Linked DNA regions of Homo sapiens. The protein of the gene in region 4 interacts with the protein of the main gene of each other region in a pairwise test. Each region holds a gene or a part of one and is shown on either strand. Other genes may lie near its edges.

Region 1 (6,978 bases), on a different chromosome or scaffold from region 4:
GTCATCATCTCCATTTCACAATCAGCAAATTGAGGCTCAGAGTCAAGTCACTCAGAGTTGTATGTCTAATGAGCAGAAGCAGGATTTGAACCCACATCCCTCGGGTCCAGGATCTATGGGTGTAACCCCTGTACTCCTCCATCACCACAGTGAATCCACAGTGACAAGGGCTAAAAATACTTCCTACAATTTTTACAGTTAAAACAATTTCAGCCACTCCTGAAAATATTGCCAGAGGTATGGAAGGAAGAGCAGAGCCTTCCTTTGCCTCATAGAAGAGGCACCTGAAGAGGTGCCAACTGCCTAGGGCTTGGGAGAGCTCAAACAAAGTTTCCCTGCCCTCAGGCAGCTGGGACTTGTAGACTCCCTGGAATATCCCACAATGAGCGCCAACCTGTTCTTTTTCTTCCTGAGCCACGGTTAGCACATTTCCCTTAGGTACAGGTAACACAAGTGGCCAAGGGCAATGCAGGCTGTGGCTCTAAGAACCTGGCAGCTGCCTTAAGCACCACGTCTGTCCTGGGTGAGAATGGGATGTTGGCATGATGATCATCAGATGATCACACAAGACACGTCAGCAGGTGACAAGCCTTGGTGTCACTCTATGTCTCCTCATGCCTCTGCCTTTGTCCATGCAGTTCCCTTTGCCGGGAAGGTTCCCCAAAGACCCCTTCATTCCAATGTCCACCTGCTAGAGAGAGGCCTGCACCTTCCCCTTGCAAAGTGTACTTCAGCTGTCGCCCCCAGGGATCTCCAATCCACTGTGGGTGAAATATTGGTTAAAAATGTAAGCTTCTGGCTGGGCACGTCGGCTCATGCCAGTAAGTACTTTGAGAGGCCAAAGTGGGAAGACTGTTTGAGTTCAGGAGTTCGAGGCCAGCCTGGGCAACACAGTGAGCCCATCTCTACAAAAAATAAAAAAAATTAGCTGGGTGTGGTGGCACACACCGATAATCCTAGCTACTCAGGAGGCTCAGTGGGGAGGATTGCTAGTGAGCTGCGATGGGGCCACTGCACTCCAGTGTGAGCAACAGAGCTAGACCCTCTTTCAAAAAAAATAAATAAATAAAAAATGTAGGCTTTTATGCTCGACATACTGGATTGTTTCTGTTACTTATGAGCTATGCAACCTTGGGTAGTTAATCTGAGTCTCCGGTTCCTCTTCTGTAAAGAAAGGAAAATGAAAGAATTTTACTCTGAGAAGAAGGGCGTTAAATAAGGTAATACACAGAAACTGCCTCTCAGCACATTATCAATGCGCTCAGTGAAGACCAGCTACTATTTGTTGCTGTTAGTATTTTTCCTATTTGCTCCTGTCGCACCCTAGGAGAGCTCAATGCAGCACACATCCAGGAGCAGCCTTGCAGAGATCTGGCGACAATGTGACAGAGAAAATCGTCCAATGAGCTTGGCATGTGCAGGAGAGAAGAATGGCAGGGGGAGTGTCCTGGTGGATTGGGCAGTGACTTTGCAGCCATGGTGGGGTATGGGGTGGGGTTGGGTTAGATGAAATCTAAGTAGGATGGGAGCCCCAGAGGATAGAATCTCATTCATTAATCACTTATCGACTAAGTGGTACAGGCCCAGAACAGAATAGTTTTGGGCCTGGGGATGAAAAACAGAACAGAAGCTGACATTCTGGGGTTGGGGGACAGATCCTCAGCAATAAACAATCAAGATAAAGTCAGAAGACTCTAGAAAACAACACAAGAGTGAGAAGACCACAAAGACTGGGAGAGACTTTACATGATGCAACCAGGGAAGCTCTCTCTGAAGAGACCCTGGAACAAGGTTAGATTGAAGTTAGAGAACAGACCAGGTGAGGAAAAATGAATAGACAACTCCTGAAGGTGATCAGAGCTACGAGGAGTAAACAGTGTGACATGCTGGAGAGTAACTTGGGGCCTTATGTGCTCACACTCCAAGAGACATACATTCATGTACACTGTCATTAATGAATATTGTGCTGGATTTGCTTTTCAAATACAAGAGCATGTGTTAAACAGAAGCACGGATTCACTGCTGTTAGGCGGCAAGCCAGATTCATTTGTAATAAACAGACGGCATCTGCAAAGATAAATCCAATGAGCTTCTTGTCTTCTAGCCTCCTGCCAAAAATGCTGCTCCCGCCTCACCTCTTGCCCTCGAGGCTCTCATTCCCTCTCCCAGCTTTTGGTAGGGCCAGACTTCCGCTGGAATGATCCCCTAAAACAACAGCAGGACCTAGAGAGTCCTTCTTCAAAGACGGCACCTAGAGTGATGCTCTCCGAGCAGTGAAAGACAGGACCCACGTCACAAGCGTACCCTCTCCAGCTCCCTCCACAGAGAAAATTACTGAGACTCGCATTTTAGACCCGAGGGAATGGAGGCCGAGGGCAGCGAGGCGACAGCTCCAGGTTAGAGCCAGAGACAGGGACCTCTCCTTACAACTCCTGTCCTGGATTCAGGACCCTGGGTAGGAAGTGATTAGCCCTGCCCTCTCACCTCACCCTCTCCCGGGATCTCCATAACCTAGGGCATCAAAAGGGAGAAGCACAGAGTCCCGGCATCCGCCGTATTACAGCGGATGGGTGCATGCGGGCGGTGACCCGAGCTCGCGCGGGCTGCGGAACCCTCCACTCACCAACGCCGGCGCCGCCATGGGCCCAGGGGGCTGGGTGAGGCCGTGAGAGTCGGCGAGGAAGCCGGTCCTGCGGGCTCGGCCGACCCCGGGCTCCGGCTCTGGGCTGCGAGGGACCTCAGTCCCCGCCGTCGTGTAAAATGCACACAAGGTTCGCGGCGCCGCCTCTGCGCGCCGTGAGGACACAGGGCTGTCGCCAAGGCCCCAGGAAGGGTTTTGCAGACGCTTGTGGGGGTGGGATCGCGGCTGACATAAAAGCGTGTAAGTGGGTCCTATCCTCCTCACTGTCCGTCTCTACTCGGTCTCGAAAAGTGGCCCCTGTCTGGCGTTCTACCCAGTGTAGCGTTGGCAACCACAGCAGCCGCAACCTAACGGCGGACGAAGACTGGACGCCGGAAGTCCCGCCCACGCCGCTACGGGAACGCCCCTCTGCGCCTTCCGTCTATGGCTTGGGGTCGGCTTCCGTCCCTTGTAGCACTGCCTTCTGGGTAATGTAGTTTGACGGAATCCGGGTGGTACCTGGAGCGCACTTTCTGTTCTCGGTGAGGCGGCTTCTCAAGGCTCCCAAGAAAGGGATTGGCTTCACCTCTTCTTAAAGGAGAGGCACACAGAGTTCCGTGGAAATTATCTGAGGCAATGACCCACTCTCAAATGTCTCTACCAGGCAACTCACGCCTTGACTTTCCTCCCTGTGTATCCCTGCGCCAGCAGTTCATCTCTCTGAGCCTTGAGATGGAGATTCCTAAGGAAAATGAAGATAATTATTTAATATGATAATATTAAAATTTCCCCTATCAGTAATTTTCAGATGACATCAGCATTACCTGCGAATTTGTTACCAATGCAAGTTCTTAGTCCCCACCCACTGAATCAGGTACTCTGGGGGGTGGGACCCAGCCCTCTGCTTAACTTGTCCAGGAAAAGTGGATGCTGCAAAACATTTGAGAACCAGACTCTTTAAATTCCAGTAAATAAATGAGACAAAGCCACCTGTTTGGTGGGAAGTAACTAAGAATTGCTTAGCACTGGGCCTGGAACATACCGATAAGAACATAAGAGCTATTGCTGTCATTATTAATATTCTGTATTATTGGCAACATCATCACAATACACTGCTAGGGGAGGGTCTGAGATACTTCTTTGCAGACTCTGATATTTGTCAAAACAAATACGTTGACTGATTCAACAGGAGCCTCATGAATACTGTTTAAATTTTACATAATAATACGTTGCAGCATTTGGCGTATGCATCTTTTTAAAACGGTATATGCAGGAGGGTTTCCTAATATACAGGTAGACCTATTGCCCAAGGGATACTTTCTTACATGATTCAAAACTTAGGATCACTGAGACTAATTACCTGCAGCCCTAAGGGAAGAGTGGAGTTGACATGGTTTCTAGTTTGTGATGTAAGATGGCGTGTCACTGTTCATCTCTAATTCACAGCAACCAGGATCTGACCCCTCCCCATCTGCCCCTCCAGCCCCCAGGGAAGCCAGAACCAGGCACAAACCAGATGGCCCAGCTTATGCCCAGCAACTCAGGGTCACCAGATCTTGTCTCATCAAGACACTTTCAGCCCACCACCCAAACCTGTAGCCCACATGAAGAGGGCAATAATCCTGGACACTGTGAAAAGTAAAAGCATTACATCCAAAGAGGCATCCCCAGGATGGAGCAGAAATAAGAAAACATAATGAAGACACAATTTTGCAATCACTTCTGCCTATATTCCATGGCCTACAAACCACTCAAATAGCTCCACATGTAAGAGAAGCCAGGATGTGCTGTCCTCCAGAGCATCCAGAAAGAGATAATGGGACTGATAAGTCCTTGGCCATTTTCTAGTAAAATCTATTAATTTAGTCATCAGATTTCCATTCTATTATTTATCCTATACATTCTACACTCTCACATGCTTCTTAATGCGAGAAGCCAAAATCTGCATGCAGTCTCTGACCTCATCTGAATGTTAAGATCTCAGGGTGATATGTTATGCATCTAGTCCAGATTTTGGGTGGGGATGCAGCCAAACCATATAATATTATGGGGCCTGTTGGGAGGTGACTGGATCGTGAGGGTAGATTTCTCATGAATGATTTGATGCCATCCCCTTGGTGCTATTCTTGAGATAATGAGTTTTCTCAAGATCTGACTGTTTAAAAGTGTGTGGCATCTTCCCCTCACTCTCTCTTGCTCCTGCTCTCACCATGTGCTACACTGGCTCCCCCTTTGCCTTGCACCATGATTGGAAGCTTCCTGAGGCCTCACCAGAAATTGAGCAGATGCTAGTGCTATGCTTCCTGTACAGCCTGCAGAACTGTGAGCCAAGTAAACCTCTTTTCTTTGTAAATTACCCAGTCTGGGGTATTCCTTCGTAAATTACCCAGTCTCAGGTTTTCCTTTACAGCAAAGCAAGAACAACCTAACACATTTACCAACTTATGAATGGATAAACAAAATGTGATATATCCTTATAACAGATTATTCAGCCATAAGAAAAGACTGCAGTGCTGATATACAATACAGCATGGAGGAACACTGAAAACATGTAAGTGAAAAAATCAGCTACAAAATAACCACACAGTATATAATTCCATGTATATGAAGTGTGCAGGATAGGCAACTCTATAGAGGTTGAAGGTAGATTAGTGATTGCTTAGGGATGGTGGGTAGTGGTGGGACAGCCGATTGATATCTAAGGGATATGGAGTTTCTTTGTGAAGTGATGAAATGTTTTAAGAATAACTGTGGGGGATAGTTGCACATATATTTAAATATGTTAAAACCACTGAATTATGTATTTTGAACGTGTGATTTATATGGTAAGTGAATTATATCTCATGAAGGCTTTTTAAACAAAACAACACTGCTGTAACTTAGACCAAACCAAAGTTTGTGTCAAATCCTGCTATGTAATATTTGTTACATTTTATAGTCTAAAATCTAAGCTTTATTTATGAGGATACTCACTTCATTGCTGAGGTGTGTCAACAAAACATATTAGTAAATTTATACGAACAAAATATTAGACCTATTACTGCGAAAATACAAAACTTGGAAATAGGAAAATTTCTTTAAAAAGAATCCTATTTAGAGTCAAGGGAAGTTATGAAACACATCAAGGAAATGAGTAGTTGCTAAATATTGAGTTAATATGTTATACATTCCTTCTCAGTGATTACAGAATACTTATATCAAATGAAATTAGATGAAATATATATTTGAAAGGTAAACATCCAAAGTAGAATAAATTTATCATTTTGTATCCTAAGTAATAGAATTTCTTTGTTGCATTTACTTTCAATCAACAAAATAGGTAAGTGCTTTATTGCTACTACTTTGATTTATTTCAAAACCTCTTTGTACAATGTACAAAATGTAAATGTAACTTTAATGTAAATTGTTTTTATATAAATTGTGACTCAAAATATTTGGACAGACAAGTTGTGTGAGATGGGCTTTAGGCAATCATGCAATCCTAACTCATATTTCATACAGAATTCATATATTTTATTTACACATATTCACTTCACACAAGACTAGGGCTAAATTTAAGTTAATGGGTTTGATTATTATTTTCCCACATTAAATAACAACACTATTTATATACACCTCAGGGATATTCCCAGAATTTTAAACATGGGCTTGCGATTCTTCAGCTCTTGAATCAAACAAAAATGTTCTGGAGTTTTATAAACTAATTAGCAAGGCAGCGGCTGTTTCTATTGAATAATTCACTGCTATTTCTGTGATTCTAATAAATGATTGCAAAAACAGGAAATCACAACTAACCAAATTCCTCACATTATTAGTGAGGAATTAGTGGAGCCCCAAAGTGGGGCTCAGACTGTGAGGGTTCTTGGCTTCACCCAGGGAAGGATTCAAGGGCAAGCCAGTGGTAGAAGAAAACAGTTTTATTGAATAGGCAGTGTTACAGCTCTGTGACTGCCTCTGCAGAGCAGGGCTACCCCATCGGCAGAGAGTAGCAGCTCAGGGCAGTTTTGCAGTCATATTTATACCCACTTTTAATTACATGCAGATTAAGGGGCGGTTTATGCAGAAATTTCTGTGGAAGGGGTAGTAACTTTTGGGTCATAGGGTCACTGCCATGGAAAGGGGTAGTAACAGCCAGGTGTTGCCATGGCAATGGTAAACTGACATGGCACACTGGTGGGTGTGTCTTATGGAAAGTTGCTTCCACCTCATCCCTGTTTTAGATAGTCCTCAATTTGGTCCAATGTCTGACCATGCCTCTGGAGTTGAGTCTTGCCTCCTATCTTAAAACGATAAAAGCATTATGAGGAAATTGTCAAGCCCAAGGGTGAGGTGAAGAATTCTTAGATATGATACCAAAA
Region 2 (6,832 bases), on a different chromosome or scaffold from region 4:
ATCAGGGCCTGGGGTCCTGGTCAAGAGATAATGAAAGATAGTCGGAGACTGTAGAAACTCGCAGAGGTAAGCGGCTGGAGACCTGGAAGTCAAGGGCAATCCTAGGAGGCCTGGGGGTTCTCACCTCGTGCAGGCTGAGCTGCTTGCCCTCCCGCCGCTTAGAGTCGAAACGGCCATAGATGATGCTGTATTTGCGGATCTCCTCTTCCTTCTGGCTGTCATTATCATCCATCTCAAAGATGTGCCCAACGCTCCGTGCCAGCTTCTTATTCAGCTTTAGCAGGGATGTGACCTCCCCAGCATCCCCCCTTGGGAAGCTCCGGAAGATCCTCTCCACACTTTCCACCACCATGCGTACCATCTCTGGCTCCAGTCGGTCTGGACCACCCCCAGTCCCACCTGCTGCCAGCCCCCCAGCCCCAGTCCCCTCAGGGACTCCTCCCCCTGCAGGGGGGGAGAAGGGGGGCGAGCCAGCCTCCTCTTCTCCTCCTGCCCCAACGTCCGACTCTGGAGTGCTCCGGCCTGGCCAGATCCGGGGGTCCCCTGCCCCAGGTCCCCCAGGCAGTGGTGATAGCTTCTCTCCAAGTTCAAGGGGGCTCTTGGGGCTAAAACTGCGGGCACTGCCTGCCTTTTCCCCTGGGCTGCCATGCCCATTGCTCATGCTCCCTTTCCGGGTACCCGCAGTCTCAGAGATCTTGAAGAGCGGGATGCTGGAGACGGGAACAGCAGGCACTGGTTGACTGAAGAGCCCTGGATTGGTGGCCCACTCTCTCAGTGCCTTCTGCAGGCGCCGGACATGGAGGGGCTTGGTGGCCATGCCCACAAGTGCCATGATCTCCAGAAACTCCTCCTCACCCGCCTCACACAGCTGCTGCACGTCGTCCCCTCCCTGCTGGATGAAGGTCTCATAGTAGGAAAGGAGGTTGGCGCGCTGCAGGACCCGGTACAGCTGCAGCTCCCCCAGCGTCCGAGGCAGTGCCATGGCTCGGGCACTGGGCCTGAGAAGGAGGGGCACAAGAGAGAGGCAGTCGGTGCAAGTCCCCCTACTGGGTACCAACCCACACTAACAATTGTTCCCTCTTTCCTGCCTGCTTTTCTTCCCCTCCCTCATTTGGATGCTATCCTGCCCAGTGCCCAGGTCTGAGTACAGACTCTCAGAATCAGGCACTGCTCAGAGGCATGGACAAGCCAGTGCCGTCCTAGACTGGCCCGAAGCCCCAAAAGTCAGTGGCCTGTGTCTGTAGGAGTCGAAGCGTCTTACAACCTTATCTTCAGCTTTTATCTTTTTGGTCTGGGGCAAGAAGAACTTGAGCGCTGAGGCTGACCAGCACCGACCTGGGATGGCTGGACCTCCCTCTCCCCCAAAACACAATCCTCACCTTCCCCTCTAAACACTCAGCAGTCTCAACACTGAAGTGAAGTCACCCATACTAAAGTGAATGTAGGAGCCCAGTCTCCCCCACAGTGGACGCTGCTGGCCAGCTTCATTCCCTGTGAAGGGGCCACAGCCCCAGGTGGCTAAAAGGGAGGGTGTGGCACCTTCCCTGGCTTTCCCACTCAGTGAGCCAGGTGGTGCCTTACTCTTCTCCGCTCAGCTTTTCCCAGGGGTTAAGCATTTATTTATTTATTTATTTATTTATTTATTTGAGACGGAGTCTCGCTCTGTCACCCAGGCTGGAGTGCAGTGGCGCTGTCACTGCAACCTCCGCCTCCCGGGTTCAAGCGATTCTCCTGCCTCAGCCTCCTGAGTAGCTGAGATTACAGGCGCCCGCCACCATGCCCGGCTAATTTTTGTATTTTTAGTAGAAACGGGGTTTCACCATGTTGGTCAGGCTGGGCTCGAATTCCTGACCTCGTGATCCACCCGCCTCAGCCTCCCAAAGTGCTGGGATTACAGGCCTGAGCCACCGGGCCCGCCCGGCCTGGTTAAGCATTCTTAACGCACGCTTCCTCTCTCCCCTCAGAACCTCTCCACCCTTCCAGGCTGCCCAGTGCTCCTCAGTGGCCCCTCTCCTAGCAGTGACACTCCCCACTTCCTCGGTCAGCCTTTTCCTTCAGCTCAGGGGCCGTGGCAGGGGGAGGGGCGCAATTGTTCTGCTCCGGGGCCGTTCCGCCCACACACACTCCCACAGTGGTAGCGTCTGTAGGCGAAAACCGCCCAGGGGCTCCCGCCTACTCTCCTCTCCCATATTTTCCACCCGCATCTTCAAGTGGAGTGGGGGAGCGGCTCAAGGCCTCTTGATGAAGGGGCTGCACACTGAAACTCCCCTCCCCGCTCTGTGAATAAAGGGACAGATATGGGAAGGAACGCCTAAGGCCTCCCTGCCTCCCTCGTCACCCCCCCTTTCCCCCGCTGATGCTCCTTTAACTCAAAGGCACCGGGGGCCCGCGCGCTCCGTGCCAACGAGGGACTGAGGCAACTGAGCGTCCCCCCACCTTCCGCACTGATGCCAGCTCGAGCTCCAGGGCATCCCCTGGTGCTTGGAGGCTCCCACATTCTTTGCAGGGGGCTCTTAGGCCAGATGGAGCCCACAGAGTAAACCAGGAATGGAGATTTGGGTACTACTCTTTCATATCCAGCTTCATCAGATGCTTGCCTGCTCCCAGGGCCCCCTAATTCGAAGACGCACCCCCTTTTCCATCAGTCTCCACCCCCCACCCCCGTCCTGCTTCCCCACGTCCTCCCCTCGACCTCCGCCCTCTGGACCCCATTCCCAAGTCCAGCTCCACCCATCTCCACTCCCCGCTGCCTCCCTTTGCCCACTAACTTGAGTCTGGGCTGCAGGGTCCGGCGGGCGCTGTCCCCTCCGCCCGGCGGCTGCTCGGCTGTGGGGGAAGGCGCTCTGTGCATGGACGGCCGGAGATCACCCGGGCTGCCCTTCTCGGTGCCCGGCGCTCGGCGCCTGCTGCGTGCTGCCCTCTTCCCCGCGCACGATGCCGTGTCCACCGCTGTCCAGGCTCTGTCCCTCCCTCCACGTCTTCTCTCTCCGAGCCTCCGCGCCTCTGTCTGTGCCTCTGCCCCCCCACCCTCCCCGGCTGCGCTTGCCGCCTCTCCGCGCCTCCGCCCCCGCAGGACGCACAGGGAGCGAGGCCCGGAGCTGCGCTGGCTGCCGGGCTGGCGGGCGGAGGGCGTGGGCAGAGCCGGGGGCGGGGGTGGGGGCGGGGGCCGGGGAGGCGGGCGCTGGGGCCTCTCGGCCGCGGAGACGCCGCGGCTTAGAGACTGGGAGAGGCGGAGACGGGGGGGGAGGGGGTGTGGAGCAGGAGGCGGGGGCGGGGATTCAGAGCCGGGGCGCCGAATTGGGGACCGAGGTGACCGAGGCCCGGCTGTGCAGGGCGGGCTTGGGGACCCAGCGGGCGGGGCGAGGTCGTTCTGTGCCGCCCACGCCGGATGCACAGCCGGCCCTCTTGGCGCCCACGTACCCACGTGAGCGCCCCGCCGGCGACATTCCTTCTCTCCCCCACCCCTCCGAGCTGAGAGAGGAGTTTCACAACCACGCACAAGTACACAAAGACACAGAAGCGCACGGACGTGCACACGCGCCTAAACAACTACGGGGACGCCCGTTGCCCATACTCAGGCCTTGTGGTGCTGGACGTGTGAATGTTAGCAGTGAGCCGGGAAAAGTTAGCGAAGGCTGGGCTGTGCGGCTTCTCCTGTGCGTGCATCTGACTCCCGTATAGTGTGCACTTAAGGCGGGCCTGAGAGCGTGGGGCTCTGCAGGGATCTCCTAGATATCCCCGCGCCCCTCCTCAGCCCCAATGGAATAATCTGAGGGGGTCGCTCTCAGAAACCCAGGCCTCCATGCTAGCCTGGAAAGTTTGGGAAACAGGAATGGGAGGGTTATGCTGCACGCCACCACTTAGGTGCGCGTGTTGATTAGACGCGTCGGCTTTTGTCAGCGCGTAGGTCAGGCAGGGATTCCTCCACTTGTCCTCTGTTTGCTGAGGATGAGGCCCTGCCTGGGAATTTTGTGTGACAAAGACGATACCCTTCCTGGGGCCGTCTATTAGGGACCTCGCCCGAGAGTCTAGTGGAAGATGAGTAAGAGGTCGGGAGCCTACGACGTGACTTCCTGCGGCGGAGCTGGAAGGAGGAGCGCCTTGAAGGAGCTTAGCCCCCGCCTCTGCAACCCACCACCGTCTCCCCCTTTGGTTTCTCCTAGCCCCATCTGGTTCGCATTGCACTCCCGCCCACGGCTGGGAGGGCTGTTGGGGGAGGCGGGGGCTCTAAGGGCCCGGCCCATAGACTCTAAGCCCCAGGGAAAGGAGGGGGGGTGGGGGCCGGGGAAAGCGAGCGGACTGGCCACAGGTGAGGTTTCCCCTAGTCCGGAATCTCAGCCCCGCCCCGCCTCTCTGTCCGCACTTCTGAGGGGCTGGGGTGGGGCATGGCGGGGCGTGGAGGCCGTGGACCGGGGCTGGTTTTACAATGTGGCCTAGCGAGGAGACCTTTCCGCCTTGTGGGGTCCGGGGAGAAGGAGCGCGTTGTTGGTGGGAGGATTTCAGTTGCTCAGGTCCTCTTCTCCAACCTATTAAGCGCCAAACACAGTGGGGGTGGTGGGAACGAGCAGAGTCCCGTCTCCCAGTCCCCCGCCCCGCAACTGGAGGGTGCGGCTAGACGGGCTCCCCTGGGGACGCTCCCGACCCCGTACGGGGTGTGGGCGACCCCTCCCCCCCCACCTCAGGTTATTTTGGATCCCGGGCTGCCAGCCGCTGGCCCCGGGTTTCCACGTGCCCCCTCCCTCCCCCAGCCCACGCTCCCCGTGACGCACATCCTCCGCCCACGCAGCCTCTGCTCGAGGCGCCCCCCTCCCTCCCACCCCGGCCCCCTTGGGGCGGCGCTGAGCCTTAGGATCTGGAGGGAGACGCCCGCCCAAGGAGGAGGCGGAGTAGGGCGTGAGCAAGTGAGCGGCAACCTACTGGGCGCGGGGCGCCCGGGTCCCGGTCCTGATCCGGGAAAGAGGGGGAGGGAGGAGCCGATTTTGAGCTCTCCGCTCCCGGGTCCTGGGAGAGGGGGTGCTCGGCCAGAGAGGGACGAGGGAAGAGAAATTCCGCAGAAGGGGCCTGCCCACTCCCCTAGGGGAGCCAGCGGGGGTCCGGGTGCGAACCCGTGTGTGAGAGTGAAACTACCGGGTGTTTGTGTCTTTGTGCCCTTGTTTCTCAAGATTGTCGTGAGATTCGGATGAGAGAATGTACGGGAAAACTCTCTAAATTGTAGAATGCTAAGCATATTTAAGACGCTACTGCCAGTTTGTGTCTCTGTACCCGAGATTATGTATTTATATGTTTCTTTATATCCACTTGTATATCTGTGTTCCTCTCTCTCTCTAGGTTTGTGTATGAGCCCCTATTTAAAAAATCATTGACTTGTCAGGGCCCGCCAGAGGCCCAGAGCGCCCCCGCAGCCCGCAGCCAGAGCTGCCGAGATGTCTGTTCTTCCCGCCCACTCCTGCCACCCCCAACTCCCCTCCTACTCCCTTCCGTTGAGAACAAGGAATTTCCAGCCTGTAGCAAAGGGAAAGAGGCAAAGACAAAGACGGAGACCATGGGAAACTATAGAAAAACATAAAGAGACAGGTGTGTGTGTGGGGGGGGGGGAGTGGTGACAAAAAGGGAGTGGGGACAAATACAAAAATTTTCATTTGTTTCCTGCATGGGACCTGTTCTCCCCTGTGTCCCCTTGGCTCACTCAAAGAAGGACCACTTCTGTGCCTGACTCACCTGCTCTCCCCATCCCCAGTGCTCTCAAAGACAGACCAGAGGAACTGATCTCGTGATAAAAAGGATTAATATTCTTTTATCTGTGCTGGTCTCCTCCGTGAAGGGAAACAGTATCCTCAGTCCTAGTTTTCCAAGAAAAGGGGAAACGATTGCGAGGAAAGGGAGGAAAGTGGGCGGAAGAGGAGTGCAGAGACTGTCGTCCCTACGCGCACGTGTAGATTTTCATCTAGCAGATTGCTCTGCTCACTCCTCCCCCAACGTCTCCACTGGGCCAGATCCGACTCACTCAGCAAGGTTTGGCTCACCCTCTCCTTCCTGGACCCCTTCCACTCCTCCAGGCAGAATTAATTCCTCCCACCCCTCGGTGGCCTCCTCATTGCTCTTTGTACACATTTCCAATTATAGTTGCTTGTTTCAGCCGAAATCCAGGACCTCTCCAGGATAGGCCTGTTATCTGGTGGACCCTCTGAAATGAATAAATTGATCCTATTCACAGGCCTGTGCAACTTTGAAAGGGCACATGACACAGATTTTACTCCCAAAGGGGCTGAGCCTGGGCAAAACTGTTTAAGTGAAGACATTTGTTTTCCATATCTCTTTCCCTTGTAAAGTTTCCAGTGAGTCCCACAAATCTGGCTCCTTGGCCTTCTAAAATGTCCACCATTCTGGTAAATTAATTCACACTCAGATGCTAAAGGTAGTAGGCCGAAGTCCTGGCTGGTAATAGAAAAGTATAAAGTAATGATCCCTTTTTTCTCTTTCAGTAACATGGCAGAATTTATCATCTAAGGAATGTTGTCCTTCAAGTTAGTTATTTTACAAGAAATGTTTCACTCCTGAAAGACAGATAATCCTAACCACTGCCTTTAAGGAGCTCACAGACTAATAGGGGAAATAGACCTATAAACGAATAATTACAACATAGTGCAATAATATGGGTACAACAATGACAGAAGTATAAGAGGGTGAGTGATCTGTTCTGCTTGGAGTTGTGAGGGGCCTTGGTTTAGACAGGCATCCAAAGGAGGTGATGATGCAGTCAGTATGAGATTTCCAGGAGTGGCCAGGGCGGTGGCTCACACCTGTAATCATAGCACTTCAGGAGGCTGAGGTG
Region 3 (6,865 bases), on a different chromosome or scaffold from region 4:
ACATGGAAATCTTTGGCCAATACTTTCCCACAGGCAGCGCATTTCAGCTCTGGGGAGGCTGCCCCTGAAAAGAGACCCAGCTTCCCTGGCAGGGGATCGTTGGGGTGGACAATGATGTTGTTCTCAAATATTCCATCCCGTCGGTGAAGGGTCAGCTGCCACTGGGTAAAGAACTTAGTTTCACACATGTCGCAGGAGAAAAGGAAAATACCAATGTGGGACAGGACATGAGTTACCCGGGAGTTTCGGTCCTGGAAGTGGGTCTCGCAGACCTTGCAGTTGCCCGTCAGCAGGTCCACATGGTCCCGAGCATGCTGCCGGATCAGTTGAATGTTGGGCTCTAGAACTTTCTTGCACACCTGGCAGGGCATGGCCTTATTCTCCCGATTGTCATTCTCTCCAAAAGCCAACTCATCCTCACTGTCATCACTCAGCTCAATCACCTCCTCAGTTGTGCCTATATCCTCAGCAGGGTCTTCAAACTGCAAGTCATCATCCCCCAGGTCCTCGAGCTGGAGCTCATCCATCTGCCCAAAGCCAGGATCTTTGGAGTGCTCACTATTGCTCAGACAGGAGTTGGTCCCAGTGGTAATGTCTACTGCATTGTCAGGGGTGAGGAAGCTGTTTTTACTGAAGTCTCCATTGCTTTGAACTTTGTATGGCTGGCAGGAGCTCGTGCTGGTCTGGATGCCCGTGCTGACAGTGCCTAGGAGTGGCTGGGTCATCATGCTAGGAATGGACGTGAAGGGAGCAGGGGTGTCATGGTCTTCTGTCTTTGGCGGTGGTGGGGGCGGTTGCGGCAGATGCAGGCTATGGTTAGCGTCACTGGCAACATTCTTCTCTTCCTCTTTATAGCTCCCTCCAGCATCACTGGGCAACACATAGTTTCTATCAGCACCAAGGTAGTCCCCACCACCTCGGAGTTCTCCAAGGGGATGGGCAGGTTCTGCCGAAGGACAACTCAGGGTACCAGAGTGGCTCTCACTGGTGCTGGTCAGGGGCTTGGCCCTGGCAGTGCTCTCCAGATCAGGAAAGGTAGAGTGACAGGCCTGGAGGAGGTCCTCCATACCCAGACGCTCAGCTACCTCGTAGATGACCCCAACATTGATCAGGTCTGTGAAGAGTTCTGAAGTGTAGACAAAGCTCAGAACCTTCTCAAAGTTGGCAGGGGTGATGAAGTCCACCACATAGGTCCTGGCAGCATCAAGCCCAGTATTCAGGAAGAGGTTCTGGAAGTAGCCAGCTGCACAGGCCAGCACAGCCTTGTGGGCCGGGAAGGAGCGGCTCCCCACCACAATGGTGACGTCGCACATGGTCTCTGAGAGCCGGCACTTGTTGAGTTCCTTCAGCAGGTTGTTGGGGTGGTTGGTGCTTTGCAGTTTGATCCTCATGCCCATCTTAGCAGCTCCTATGAAATTACCTCCTTATCAGCACAGTTAATCTGTGGATAGCAAGAGAAAAAGATGGATGGCCAAACACATCCGTGCAAAAGAGGGGCTATGCAGGAGAAAATACCATCACTCTGAATGCTTCCAAGCCCCAGGTAGGGATCAGGAGTAAACTGGCATGGAGAGTTCCTCCATTATGACAAGGCAATGACATCTCCCCCTGTATATACTCAAAGAGTTATGACAAAAACCAAAACGACTGATGACAATCTGATAGCTTGGTTTTAAGCTGGTGCCTAGAGACGAACCAGAGGCATTCCCTTGGACACAATCTTATACTTCATTACCAGAGCCACTGGATCAAATTTTTCTCCTATTAATTTCCTCCCAAATACAAGCTTTCCTAATTCATTGAGCATATTCTTTTCCCTCATGATGCCAAATACCATGCACATGCTTGAACACAACTATCAAAGCTCCACTAGCTACTGAGGAACATATAAGGTGGTTCCGTTTTTTAGCTTTGTCATTGCTGTGTCTTCAACCTCTCAATAATCTCCAAATAAATCTCACGTTCTTGAATCCCCATCTCTCTCTGCCTATACTACATACCCGCTCTCTGGCCTTTCGATAACCCAGAGCCCCTCCAGATATTGCTTTATCACAGTCCCTGTATTCTGTGAAGTTAAAACACTCAGAATGCACAGTAAGAAAAGTAGAACACAACTGTGGTAGTATTTAATATTACTTTAATATGTTGTATTCTTTTTCGCCACCCTTTTCGGGGTTTATATTTTGTTGTCCCTGCACTAACAGATTTACTTGATGCCGCAAGAAAGACTTCTAATTATACAGGTAAGACTCCTAGAGGCTTGTTCACTACCACTTTCTGCCCTTTCTGACTCCTGCACGACTAAGGAAGAAGAGCTACTTGCATCCCTGTTCAGTCTCACAACTCTGCCCAACACAGCCCCTTTCTCCATCTCTCCAGATTCTAACAACTCCCAACTTTTTCTGGGGCCCAGGAAGCGTCTAAGTATTGTGGGGTACCGGCCAAGCATCTCCCGGGCCCTGGTGGCCACCCCTGAACGATGGGCGGGTCGGAGCACTGGGCAGCCAGAGGAGAGGGTGGGAGAGGGGGAAGCTGGGAACTTCCAAGGACACCCCAACAATCCCCGGGCGCCGCGGTCTCCCCTCCGGAGTCGCATCTGGGAGGGAAGGGCGCTGCATCGGCTGGGGCGCTCCCTCTGGAGGCAACGAGCGCCTCAGTCCCTCCACAAACAGCGCGGGGCTCACCCGGGTGAGCCTGTTGGGGGCATGGGGCTGAATAAGGGGCCAAGCGAGGGGCGGCGGGGCCGGCCGGGGTCGGCGCGCGGGCGGGGAGGATGGGTCCGGCCGAAGGGAGCGGGCAAGAGGGACCCCAGCAAGAGCGAGATAAATGCCGGGCCGAAGGTCGGGCTTCGGCCAGGGGCAGCCCTCGGCCTGGCCGCGCTTACCCGGCTCTGCGGCGCCCCGAGCACCATCGCCGCCGCCGCTTCACACAAAGGCCCCGGCCCGCCGTGCCCGGCCCGACGAGGAGGCGGCGCCGCCGGCCGCGGCCAGACTCTCCATCCGCCGCGCGGCTCGCCGCGACGGCCCGGGCCGCCCCCGCCGCCCGGCCCGCAGCGCCCCCCGCCGTCCCGGAGGAGGCAGCGCCCCCCGCCGCCCGGCCGCAGCGCCCCCCGCCGCCCGGGAGGAGGCAGCGCCCCCCCACGGCGGGGCCGGGTCCAGGACCTGCGCGAGGGGTGCAGGGGCTTCCAAGTCCCCAGGCTGGCTTTTTCTAAGCGCCCATCCACTGTGCGCGGGACTTGGTGCCTGAAGAGTGAAAAACCCTATCCAAACTCTCTTCACCTCCCCTGTTCTACGCTCACAGTTCCAAAAGCTTCTCCTCAGAACATCTACTATGGGCATTTTACAAAATGTTGTAAGATTGTTTGATTACTATATATCTCCTCCACTAGGCTGTGGGCTTCCTGAAGGCAGGGATCTGTGGCTTTGCACACGGCCGCAGGTCCACACTGACCCTTACCACACTTCCTGGCACAATAAGTGCTTAATACATTAAGCCTGCTTGAATGAATGAAGGAGCACTTGAGGGCTAGACCGCTACTACTGGACCCTTCTGATAATCCACTGCTGTCCCTCCTTCCATCTAGGTGGCCAAATGAAGAAAGTCACCGGATCTCACTGTACTTTGGCACCCCAGGCCTGCTTCCTGAAGCCTGCCCTCCCCAACTCTGTGTAGAACTCGATCACTCTTCCTCCCCACCCTTCTCCCAAATCATCTTTTCAAATGCTTCTGCCCAAGAATTGTCATCAAACGAAAACCACCTACACTGCCTGCCCCACCCACCACCACCAAAGACATTAGAAGTCTTCGTCATGTCGCCCTCCCTCCCTCAGTACAGAGGAAGCTCTTAGGCTCCAAGACCCTTCAGTTTCATCCTCTCTCCCATCCCATCCCAGTCACTGCCTGAAAATAGCTTGCAGCCAAGGACAAACTCCCAGGACAGGCGCATGGTAGGATTCAGTAATTCCTTGATGGATAAGTGGAAAGGAAGGGACACACTGAATGTTGCCAACAGATCTAAGCCAGTTTGGCCATTCAGCAATTGTCCATTCTCTTGATGAATTTGGGAGATTGTGTGTCCTCCTTTCCACAACCTCATTAACTGGTGGCAGACTATACTGAAAGCAAGCACTATACCAAATGCTGCCAAACATGTAACATTTGTTAGCCAGGAGATACAAAAACAGCCATAGAACTGTTCTTATAGTTTGGGGATGAGGCATCTCACTTTACCATCTAGTGAAAGGGTCACTTAGAGGTTGACACAATGTTTCAGTGGCAGGCCCAGCTCTCACAGTTGTGCAAGGTGACTGAGTCTCCCTAAAGTGGAATATCACACAGCCAGCAGGTCCAGACCTCCAGCATGACTCTGGAGACAGAGGGCTGCTGGGCTTGCAAGGGCCTGGGCCTATACAGTCTTTCTAACCAACTGCCCCAGCCATCTCTGGAGGGTTGACCCCAATAAACTTCACATGAAAACAAATCATCCAAAAGACGCAGGTGAAAGTATATACCACTTATACTGAAGTCTTTTTAAAGTAAATCACCATATAGTCACAATAACAAACATATACAAAGTTAAATGGAGAAGAAAGGGCCAGGAATTTAGTCAAGGTCTTGTGGACCAGATCTCTTTAGGCATCAACTGTTTTACAACAGGAAAGGGAGGGTCAGGATCCCTTCACACATTCTTCAAGTACAAACACAGGAATCTAACTTAACATTTGTCTTCATTTTTTTCTGGAGTCCCCAGTACTGCAATTTTTGTCAGTCCCACTAGAGAGCAATCTTTCTGCACTTAATGTTCCTACTTGCAAAGCAATTGTCTCATCTCAGCCTATAAGCCTAACTCCCACCAAGTCTGAGCAGAACCAACTCTTGTAGCTTTCATGACCCAGAGAAAGCCCCTAGACTCTGCAAAAGTGTCCCCAGTTTTAAGCCCTATAGATAGATAATTTTGAAAAGTCAAAGAGATGACTCACTGGAAAAAGGGTCTAGGCTCTGGGGTGGGGGCATTCTTTGACCTCTGGCTATAAAGCTGACATAAGTAATACTAGGGTGAGTATTCCCTCCTTTCCCCGCCCCCCACTATACAGCTGTCATTCCAAAGTGGCCCCAAGTCAGGCTGTAGGAAGATAGAATTTTCACTAGAATGAAAGGACTGCAGGAAGTGGCCTCTGGCTCTGTGGCCCTGTCCTTACACTGCCTTGGGAAATCTATGTGTTGATGTTTTATCAGTGCAATTCAGGGGCATAACAAAGGCCCCTGTACCACGCTAAGATAAGGAGCCTGAGGATTTCACTGGCTGTTCCATTAGGGTACAGAACCCCCCTTAGGATGGCGGGTGATAGTTGACATCATAGATTAGTAAAAGACATCCATACCCATGCATACCACATGTAAGTGCCTTACACATTCTGGGGACTGTTAAGTCAGAGCTGCAGGAGCTGGTAACAGGCACTTTAGAGAGGAGTGGGAGATAAATGTTTTCCCTTTATAATAACTAAGGCAGCCAGTTAACGGTGAAGATATCTGCTCCTCTCTTTCTTGGCCTCGGTAGTAACTTCCCTGTCCACATCCCATCCTAGCTGGATCAAGTTCTGTTTGCTTGTCCACAGCCCTGCTAAACTGTAAACTCTGTGTATGAGTCATCATTTCATCCCCAGGATCTGTCACAGAACCCAGGCTCAGCATTTGGAGACAAAAAAATTGTATAGGGTCATAGATTTGTCCTCCTCTGTGGCTGGGTCTCCGGACAGCCTTGATCCCCACCTCCTTCTCTAATTAAGTAGGGTCAGATTCAGGAATGAATATCTCCCAGACCCATCCTAGTAATACAAGTCATTCTGAATATTTTTTTTCTTTTTCTTTTTCTTTTTTTATTGTTTTTTTTGTTTGTTTGTTTTGTTTTGAGACGGAGTTTTTTGCTCTTGTTGCCCAGGCTGGAGTGCAGTGGCGTGATCTCGGCTCACTGCAACCCCTGCCTCCTGGGTTCAAACGATTCTCCTGCCTCAGCCTCCCAAGTAGCTGGAATTACAGGCATGCGCCACCATGCCTGGCTAATTTTTGTATTTTTAGTAGAGAAGGGGTTTCACCATGTTGGTCAGGCTGGTCTCGACCTCCTGACCTCGTGATCCACCCGCCTCGGCCTCCCAAAGTGCTGGGATTACAGGCGTGAGCCACCGGGCCCGGCCTGTTTTTTCTTTATCTAAAACTGGTCTGTAAAAATCTTTGTGTGTTAGAAACCATCTTCCAAATTCGTGTATTTATTTTAATCACTAAATAAATCTGATACTCATCGTGCAAAGCACTGTGTAAGGCACTGTTCAGGAAATAGATATATACAAAAAGATATGTAAAGTTATTTACATTTAAATATGAAGTGTGTGTATCATAAGTATGTGTGTATTTACCATGTAGCTGGAGGAGTCAAGGAACAGAAAAACCCACCAACCAAACAAGTAAACACACACACCACATCATTCATATGCAAAAATCCTTTATTGTTGAGGAATAGAGAGAGACATTATATTTTTAATGTAGGACACTACAGGAACTCTAGGGTATTCTACAGTCAATGCCCATTGGGGTTGGGGATATTCACTATGCAGTTTCCACACCAGGGTCAGGTAGAAAAGATGGAGAAGGAGTCAAAGCACAAGAATGTTACAAGAACAGGGAAGAGAAAGGGTAACAGGAGCGTGCGCACCTGGGGATTGGGACAGGGAAAGAGGTCTTCCTAATGCAGTCCAGGAGTCCGGAAGTGGAGTACTGAGGACAAAAAACAAAACAAAACAAAAAAAAACACTGAAATCACATCTTATATCCTGTAAAAAAGTCCCACTGAAAACCTGCTGTGGCAGCAGGA
Region 4 (7,027 bases):
ATTAATAAAATATAGCTTCCCCCCGGAAAAGATGCCCTTTCCTCTTTTAAAATGAATATTAAAGAGATTTCCAACTACCAGATATTTTCATAACTGATATACAAAACAAGGTTTTTAAACAGGTTGTTTTTTCTCATATTAAATATTGGTGACATAAAATGGTACCATCTGCAAGACAAACTATTAACACTTGGAAAGAACACTTTTCTAACTCTAAAATGGATTCTATGTGGGGGGAAAAAGCAGTTTTAAAGGCACGATTTAAAATGTGAAATCCTTCTGAAGATATGCAATTTATTGGTCTTTTGCAGTTTATTGGCAGTGATCTTTTACAGAACAAAAATGCAAAATGTAAGAAAGTAAAGTATCATAAAGCAGAATCCCAAAATGGAAATGTAACATACAAAACTGATACACCAGAAATATTGTGAAATACGGATGTCACATTGCTTGGACTTTTTTTTTTTTTTTTTTTTTTTTGAGACGGAGTTTTGCTCTTGTTGCCCAGGCTGGAGTACAATGGCATGACCTCAGCTCAGTGCAGCCTCCGCCTCCAGGGTTCAAGCGATTCTCCTTCCTCAGCCTCCCAGGTAGCTGGGATCACAGGTGCCCACCACCATGCCTGGCTAACTTTTTGCATTTTTAGTAGAGATGGGGTCTCACCATATTGGCCAGGCTGGTTGCGAACTCCTGACCTCAGGTGATTGACCCGCCTTGGCCTCCCAAAGTGCTGGGATTACAGGTGTGAGCCACTGCGCCCGGCTGCTTGGACACTTTTTTTAACCACTTGTTAAAGAAATACATTAAAATGAAAATGTTTTGATGCCATTCAAATACTGTTACTTAAAAACTCTGGTTTTTAAGAAGGATATAATATAATACCAGAGAAATCTGCTTTGAATCTTGGAAGGCTTTTTCACCCTAAAGCAACTGCCTTTTGAATAAGCATCATAAAAAAATGCAGTGTAAGATGATTCACAAATAGTGCAAAATAAGGCAATAGTCTTCCATCATTTTGTCAGGGTTTCCTAATAAGGTTAAGTTCTCTTTCAACACCCCCCTTAGTCAAAGGCAGTTTTTGGTTTCTTTGGTAATACGTACAAATTGCTTCATTCCACATCTGTCATTTCTAGTCCATCACTTTCTTTGACATATACCACTGAACCCAAGGCTTTCCCAGAAAGAGATCCTGTGCCAGTCCCTTCAATCCTTGTAAAGTTTTCTTGATTTGTGTCTTCTAATCTTATTTTCTTGGTGTTTTGAAATAACTGAGTCGCTGGTTCCAACCTGCTTTTTTCAGTCCCTCGTATTAAGTGATCATCCACTTTTGAATCCATATGTATAGCAGATACCTGAGTAGCAGATTTACTAAGTGAAAATCCCATTAGGATAGCTGAACAAATGTGAAAGTAATTTGCAGGTACCTTTTTAAGTAGTGGAAGTGTTTCTTCAACTTGATTACTGAAAAAAAAAAAAAAAGTAACAAGTGAATGCAGCAGGAATTTCCCTAACTTCATGGCAATGTTTGTTTGAATGAAAAGCTGTGGTGATACTAGAAATATAAAGTAAAATTGCCTCCTACCTTTCAGTGTTTACATTTTCTTTGTGGGAGGGTTTGCAGGTTCTAAAGATTTATTTGAAAGTCTTTTTAAAAGGAAATTTATCTGATTGTATGTTTTATCACCTTTCAGAAAATAGTAGAGCTTCTCTTAGTCCTTTCTTTCATTCTTGCTAGCGAAACCTCTTTATTCATTACTAATGGGCTAAAGAAATAACGACTGAAGGCCAAGTACTCTGCTAGTACTTTATTTTCTGTAAAAAATAAAGATGTCCTATAAAGATACTTGTGATTGGCTGGGTGCGGTGGCCCACGCCTGTAATCCCAGCACTTTGGGGGCCGAGGCGGGTGGATCACCAAAGGTTAGGATTGAGAGACCAGCCTGGCCAACATGGTGAAACCCCATCTCTGCTAAAAATACAAAAATTAGCTGGGTGTGGTGGCATGCACCTGAAATCCCAGCTATTCAGGAGGCTGAGGCAAGAGAATAGCTTGAACCTGGAAGACGGAGGTTGCAGTGAGCCAATATTGCACCACTGCACTCCAGCCTGGGCGACAAGAGCGAGACTCTGTCTTAAAAAAAAAAAAAAAAAAAAAAAAGATACTTGTGATTAAGGATGTCTAGTCTGTAAAAAGAGATGATCGGCCGAGCGCAGTGGCTCACACCTGTAATCCCAGCACTTTGGGAGGCTGAGGTGGGTGGATCACGAGGTCAGGAGATCGAGACCATCCTGGCTAATATGGTGAAACCCCATCTGTATTAAAAATACCAAGAATTAGCCGGGCGTGGTGGCGGGCACCTGTAGTCCCAGCTACTCGGGAGGCTGAGGCAGAAGAATGGTGTGAACCCGGGAGGCTGAGGTTGCAGTGAGCCGAGATCGCGCCACTGCACTCCAGCCTGGGCGACAGAGCGAGACTCCGTCTTAAAAAAAAAAAAAAAAAAGATGATCATGTAGCATGGAGGGAGGCCTTGGGAAGTTTCCCAAAGGAGGGGAGCCTAGGTTAGGGTTTCGCTTTCAAAGATGGGCAGGAATTTGGTAGGCAGAGTTGACCAGGATGGCAGAAGGGACAGGCTTCCTGTACAGAAAAGGTTTGAGAAAGCCCAGGGCTTACTGGAGAAGAGTGATCTACCCAAGATGCTATAGTAGCAACCTGAGATCTGGAGCAGATTCCACAGCTTCGATCGAAATCCCTCACCCATTTTTTTTTTTTTTTTGAGATGGAGTTTCACCCTTTCACCCAGGCTGGAGTGAAGTGGTGCGATCTCGGCTCACTGGACCTCCACCCGGCAGGTTAAAGTGATTTTCCTGCCTCAGCCTCCTGAGTAGCTGGGATTACAGGTGCCCGCCACCAGGCCCAGCTAATGTTTGTATTTTTATTTTTATTTTTATTTATTTTTTTTCCAGTCTATATTTTATTTATTGTGGTAAAATATATATAACATTTACCATTTTAAACACTTTTAAGTGTACAATTCAATGACATTGAGTACATTTACATTTTTGTGCAAACATCATGGTCATCCATCTCCAGAACTTTTAATCATCCCAAACAGAAACTCTAACGTTTGTATTTTTAGTAGAGACGGGGTTTCCCCATGTTGACCAGGCTGGTCTTGAACCCCTGACCTCAGGTGATCCACCCACCTCAGCTCCCAAAGTGCTAGGATTACAAGCATGAGCCACTGCGCTCAGCCTCACCCACTTTTTAGAATGTATTATGTCTTTAATATTTACCTACTGTGGTATCTTTGATAGTTTACAATTTCATACTCATCAAGCTGTAATTACTGACTGAACATTTCTAAAGAATCATCTTGAAACCCTGTTTATCCATATTTGTGACTGAATATCAGTGTTTATAACAAAACAGAGTCCTGGGTCTACTGTAGTAGCCTAAATATAGTACTTACTCAAATATTAATATAACAATTAGGTAAATAGTATATATTTGGCTTTCTGGGACTCAAATACAACTTAGCTAAATTTTTTAATATCTCTGATGAAATTCTGAAATATGGGTATATTTGATTTTTAGATTTGGAACTTGAAGATGAATTTTTCTTCCTCATCAAAGGAATATCTAATACTGCCTTCAAATGAATAAAATTGAGTTTATTCTATTTGGTTTCTCTTTTTCTTAGAAAGGAAATACTCCTGTCAAATGCATAACTTGAATCTAAACATGAGGAAACAATCAGATAAACCCAAACAGAAGTATCTTCTATGAAACAAATAGCTTCTACCTAAAAATGTCAATGTTATGAAAGACACAGAGAGGCTGAGGAACTGTTTCAGATTAAAGGAGGCTAAAGATACATTATTTCAGATGCAACCAATGCTCTTGAATTGGGAAGGGGATGGAATGTACTACAAAGATCATTACTTAGATAACTGAAACATTTGGATATGGGACAATATTAGATAATAATATTGGATCAATGTGATAAATGCCATGAATATGATAATTGTATTGTGGTTATATAAGTCAATGTCCTTGTTCTTAGGAAATACATACTGAAATAGTTAGGGGTGAAGAATTGTATCTGCAACTTGCCCTCAAATTGTTTAGCAATAGATAGATAGATACATAGATACAGAAAGACAGTAAAATATGCAAAATGCTAACAACTGTTAAATCTAGGAGGTAAAGCTTAAAAAGTTGTTCTACATATTATTATTATTACATTTCTGTAGGTTTAAAACTTTTTCAAAATACAAAATTGAAAAAACGTTTTAAAAAACACAAAACTCTAAAACATGGCATTTGAAATCAACAAACGTAAAAGAATGGTAACATATAATTATCAATTTGCACATTAAACTTCAATCTAATAAAAGGACTGAGGAGGAACCAAGTATAATAGGGTAGACTTGGCCCTGTGAGTCTTACCTTAACTTCCCCAGAGTTGAGGACATGAAGGGTGAACAAGTCTATTGGGGGCCTCTTTGGACTGGCATTTAGGTTGCCATTCAAGAAGAAATCTGGAATATATATGTAAGAATAAAGGTACATAAAGAGATAAATCAATCTGGAGAAAAAGAACAAAGTGGCTTTCTTTACTAGATATTAAGATAGGCTACGCGGCTGGGCACAATGGCTCACGCCTGTAATTCCAGCACTTTGGGAGGCCAAGGTGGAAAGATCTCTTGAGTCCAGCAGTTTGAGACCAGCCTGGGCAACATAGGGAGACCTCATCCCTATCAGAAAAAAATTAAAAAAAACAAAAAGATATGCCACAAAGTGAAAGTAATAAAAATAACCTTGTACAGGTACAGGAACAAATAATCAGTAGAATATGACAGAGCTGTAACTTGGACTTAGGTATTTCAGGAACTTCACATATATCACAGGTGGCACTATAAGACAAAGGAGATAGAACAGACTAAGTTTAGTATGATGGTATCGTGAACATTGGCTAACTATGTGGACATAAGCAGGATCTTAAACACAGAAGTAGGCTGGGCGCGGTGGCTCACGCCTGTAATCCTAGCCCTTTGGGAGGCTGAGGTGGGCGGATCACGAGGTCAGGAGTTCGAGACCAGCCTGATCAACATGGTGAAACTCTGTCTCTACTAAAAATACAAAAATTAGCCAGGTGTGGTGGCGGGTGCCTGTAATTCCAGCTACTCAGGAGGCTGAGGCAGGAGAATCGCTTGAACCCAGGGGGTGGAGGTTGCAGTGAGCTGAGATCATACCATTGCACTCCAGCCTGGGCGACAGAGCAAGACTCCGTCTCAAAAAGAAAAAAAAGTGGAGTGCAAATGCATTAAAGACCTAAATGTGAATGGCAGAACTGTAAATGCAATAGAAGAAAATATCTGTTACCTTGGAGTGAAGAAAGATTTCTTGAACAAGACTAAAAAGCTTAAACAATAAGGGAGGAAAACAGTGAGTTTGATTACTCATAATTGAGAATTTCTATTCAATGAAAAAAATATAAACAAAAAGATAGATAAGAGACTGGAAGGAGATATTTTCTGTGTCCAAAGCTGATGGTATTTAATGGCTGGAATAAAAAGAGAACACCTAGAAATTAGCAAGGAAAAAGAAAACCCAATAGAAAAATGGGCAAAGGATATAAAAACATAATTCACAGATTGAGGAATCCCAAACAGATAATTAACTAGGAATCAGAGAAATTCAAGTTGCAAAGAAATTGCAACCTCCGCCTTTCTGGGTTCACATGATTCTCCTGCTGAGGCCTCCCGAGTAGCTGGGATTACAGGCACCTGCCACCATGCCCGGCTAATTTTTGTATTTTTAGTAGAGACGATGTTTCGCCATGTTGGCCAGGCTGGTCTCGAATTCCTGACCTCAAGTGATCTGCCCTCCTTGGCCTCCTAAAGTGCTTGGATTACAGCATGAGCCACCGTACCTGGCCACATCTGGCTAATTTTTAAAATTCATTTTTTTTGTAGAGACAGGGTGTCACTGTGTTGCCCAGGCTGGTCTCGAATGCCTGTACTCAAGCAATCCTCCCACTTCCCAAAGTGCTGGGATTACTGGCGTAAGCCACCATGCCTGGACTGGTTTGAACCTTTTATAACAAAACCCAGATCACAGCAGTCCTCTGCTCAACACACTCTAGTTGCTTCCCATATCAGAGAAAAAAATTATCTACATATCTGGTCCCCAGCTGTGGTAGGCAGAATAATAGTCTTCAAAGATGTCTTTGTCCTAATCCCCAGAAGCTGGGACTATGTTATGTTATGTGGCAAGGGGGAATTAAGGTTGCTAATCAGCTGACTCTGAGGGTGGGAAAATTCTCCTGGATTAATTGGGTGGTACTAATGTAATCACAAGGGTCTTTTTTTTTTTTCTTTTTGGGACAGAGTCTCACTCTGTTGCCCAGGTTGGAGTGCAGTGGTGTGATCTAGGGTGACTGCAGCCTCCGCCTCCTGGGTTCAAGTGATTCTCGTGCCTCAGCTCCCAAGTAGCTGGGATTACAGGTGCCTGCCACCACGATCAGTTAATTTTTGTATTTTTGGGGAGAGACAGGGTTTTGCCATGTTGAACAGGCTGGTCTTGAACTCCTGACCTCAAGTGATCCACCTGCCTTGGCCTCCCAAAATGCTGGGATTATAGGTGTGAGTCACCGCACCTGCCACACAAGAGTCTTTAGAAGTGAAAGAGGGAGGTAGAATGTGTTAGCCATGATGCAATGTGAGGAGGACTTGACTGGCCATTTTTGGCGTTGAATATAGACTGGGATCACAAGCCAAGGAACATGGGCTGCCAGTAGAAGCTGGAAAGGCAAGAAAGGGGATTTTCCCCTAGAGCCTCCAGAAGGAATGTAGACCTGCCTGACATCTTGATTTTAGCCCAGTGAGACCCAATTTGAACTTGTAAATCTCCAGAACCGTGTGATAATAAATTTGTGTTGCTTAAAGACACCAAGTGTGTGGTAAATTGTTGCACAGCCGTAGCAAACAACTCTACTAGCAAGCACTCTCTCCTGTCTCTTTG

Evidence for each region.
Region 1: the proteins of TSGA10 (region 4) and ZNF599 interact in binary tests that used the Homo sapiens proteins (3 or more experiments, as listed by UniProt).
Region 2: the proteins of TSGA10 (region 4) and NAB2 interact in binary tests that used the Homo sapiens proteins (3 or more experiments, as listed by UniProt).
Region 3: the proteins of TSGA10 (region 4) and ZBTB39 interact in binary tests that used the Homo sapiens proteins (3 or more experiments, as listed by UniProt).

Annotation. Positions count from the first base shown.
Region 1 is NC_000019.10:34,770,201-34,777,178, forward strand, and holds the start of ZNF599 (zinc finger protein 599), read right to left. Parts: upstream 3,016-6,978; 5' UTR 2,642-3,015; coding exon 2,624-2,641; intron 1-2,623. UniProt on the Homo sapiens protein: May be involved in transcriptional regulation.
Region 2 is NC_000012.12:57,085,291-57,092,122, reverse strand, and holds the start of NAB2 (NGFI-A-binding protein 2), read right to left. Parts: upstream 3,010-6,832; 5' UTR 2,852-3,009; coding exon 2,769-2,851; intron 999-2,768; coding exon 125-998; intron 1-124. Other genes in the region: NEMP1 (nuclear envelope integral membrane protein 1), read left to right, coding at 4,039-4,309. UniProt on the Homo sapiens protein: Acts as a transcriptional repressor for zinc finger transcription factors EGR1 and EGR2. Isoform 2 lacks repression ability.
Region 3 is NC_000012.12:57,003,521-57,010,385, forward strand, and holds the start of ZBTB39 (zinc finger and BTB domain-containing protein 39), read right to left. Parts: upstream 3,027-6,865; 5' UTR 2,885-3,026; intron 1,442-2,884; 5' UTR 1,398-1,441; coding exon 1-1,397. UniProt on the Homo sapiens protein: May be involved in transcriptional regulation.
Region 4 is NC_000002.12:99,144,917-99,151,943, reverse strand, and holds part of TSGA10 (testis-specific gene 10 protein), read left to right. Parts: intron 1-274; exon of another isoform or gene 275-1,109; coding exon of another isoform or gene 1,110-1,385; exon of another isoform or gene 1,386-1,461; intron 1,462-3,595; exon of another isoform or gene 3,596-3,680; intron 3,681-4,450; exon of another isoform or gene 4,451-4,542; intron 4,543-4,821; exon of another isoform or gene 4,822-4,917; intron 4,918-7,027. Other genes in the region: uncharacterized protein C2orf15, read right to left, coding at 1,110-1,385. UniProt on the Homo sapiens protein: Plays a role in spermatogenesis. When overexpressed, prevents nuclear localization of HIF1A.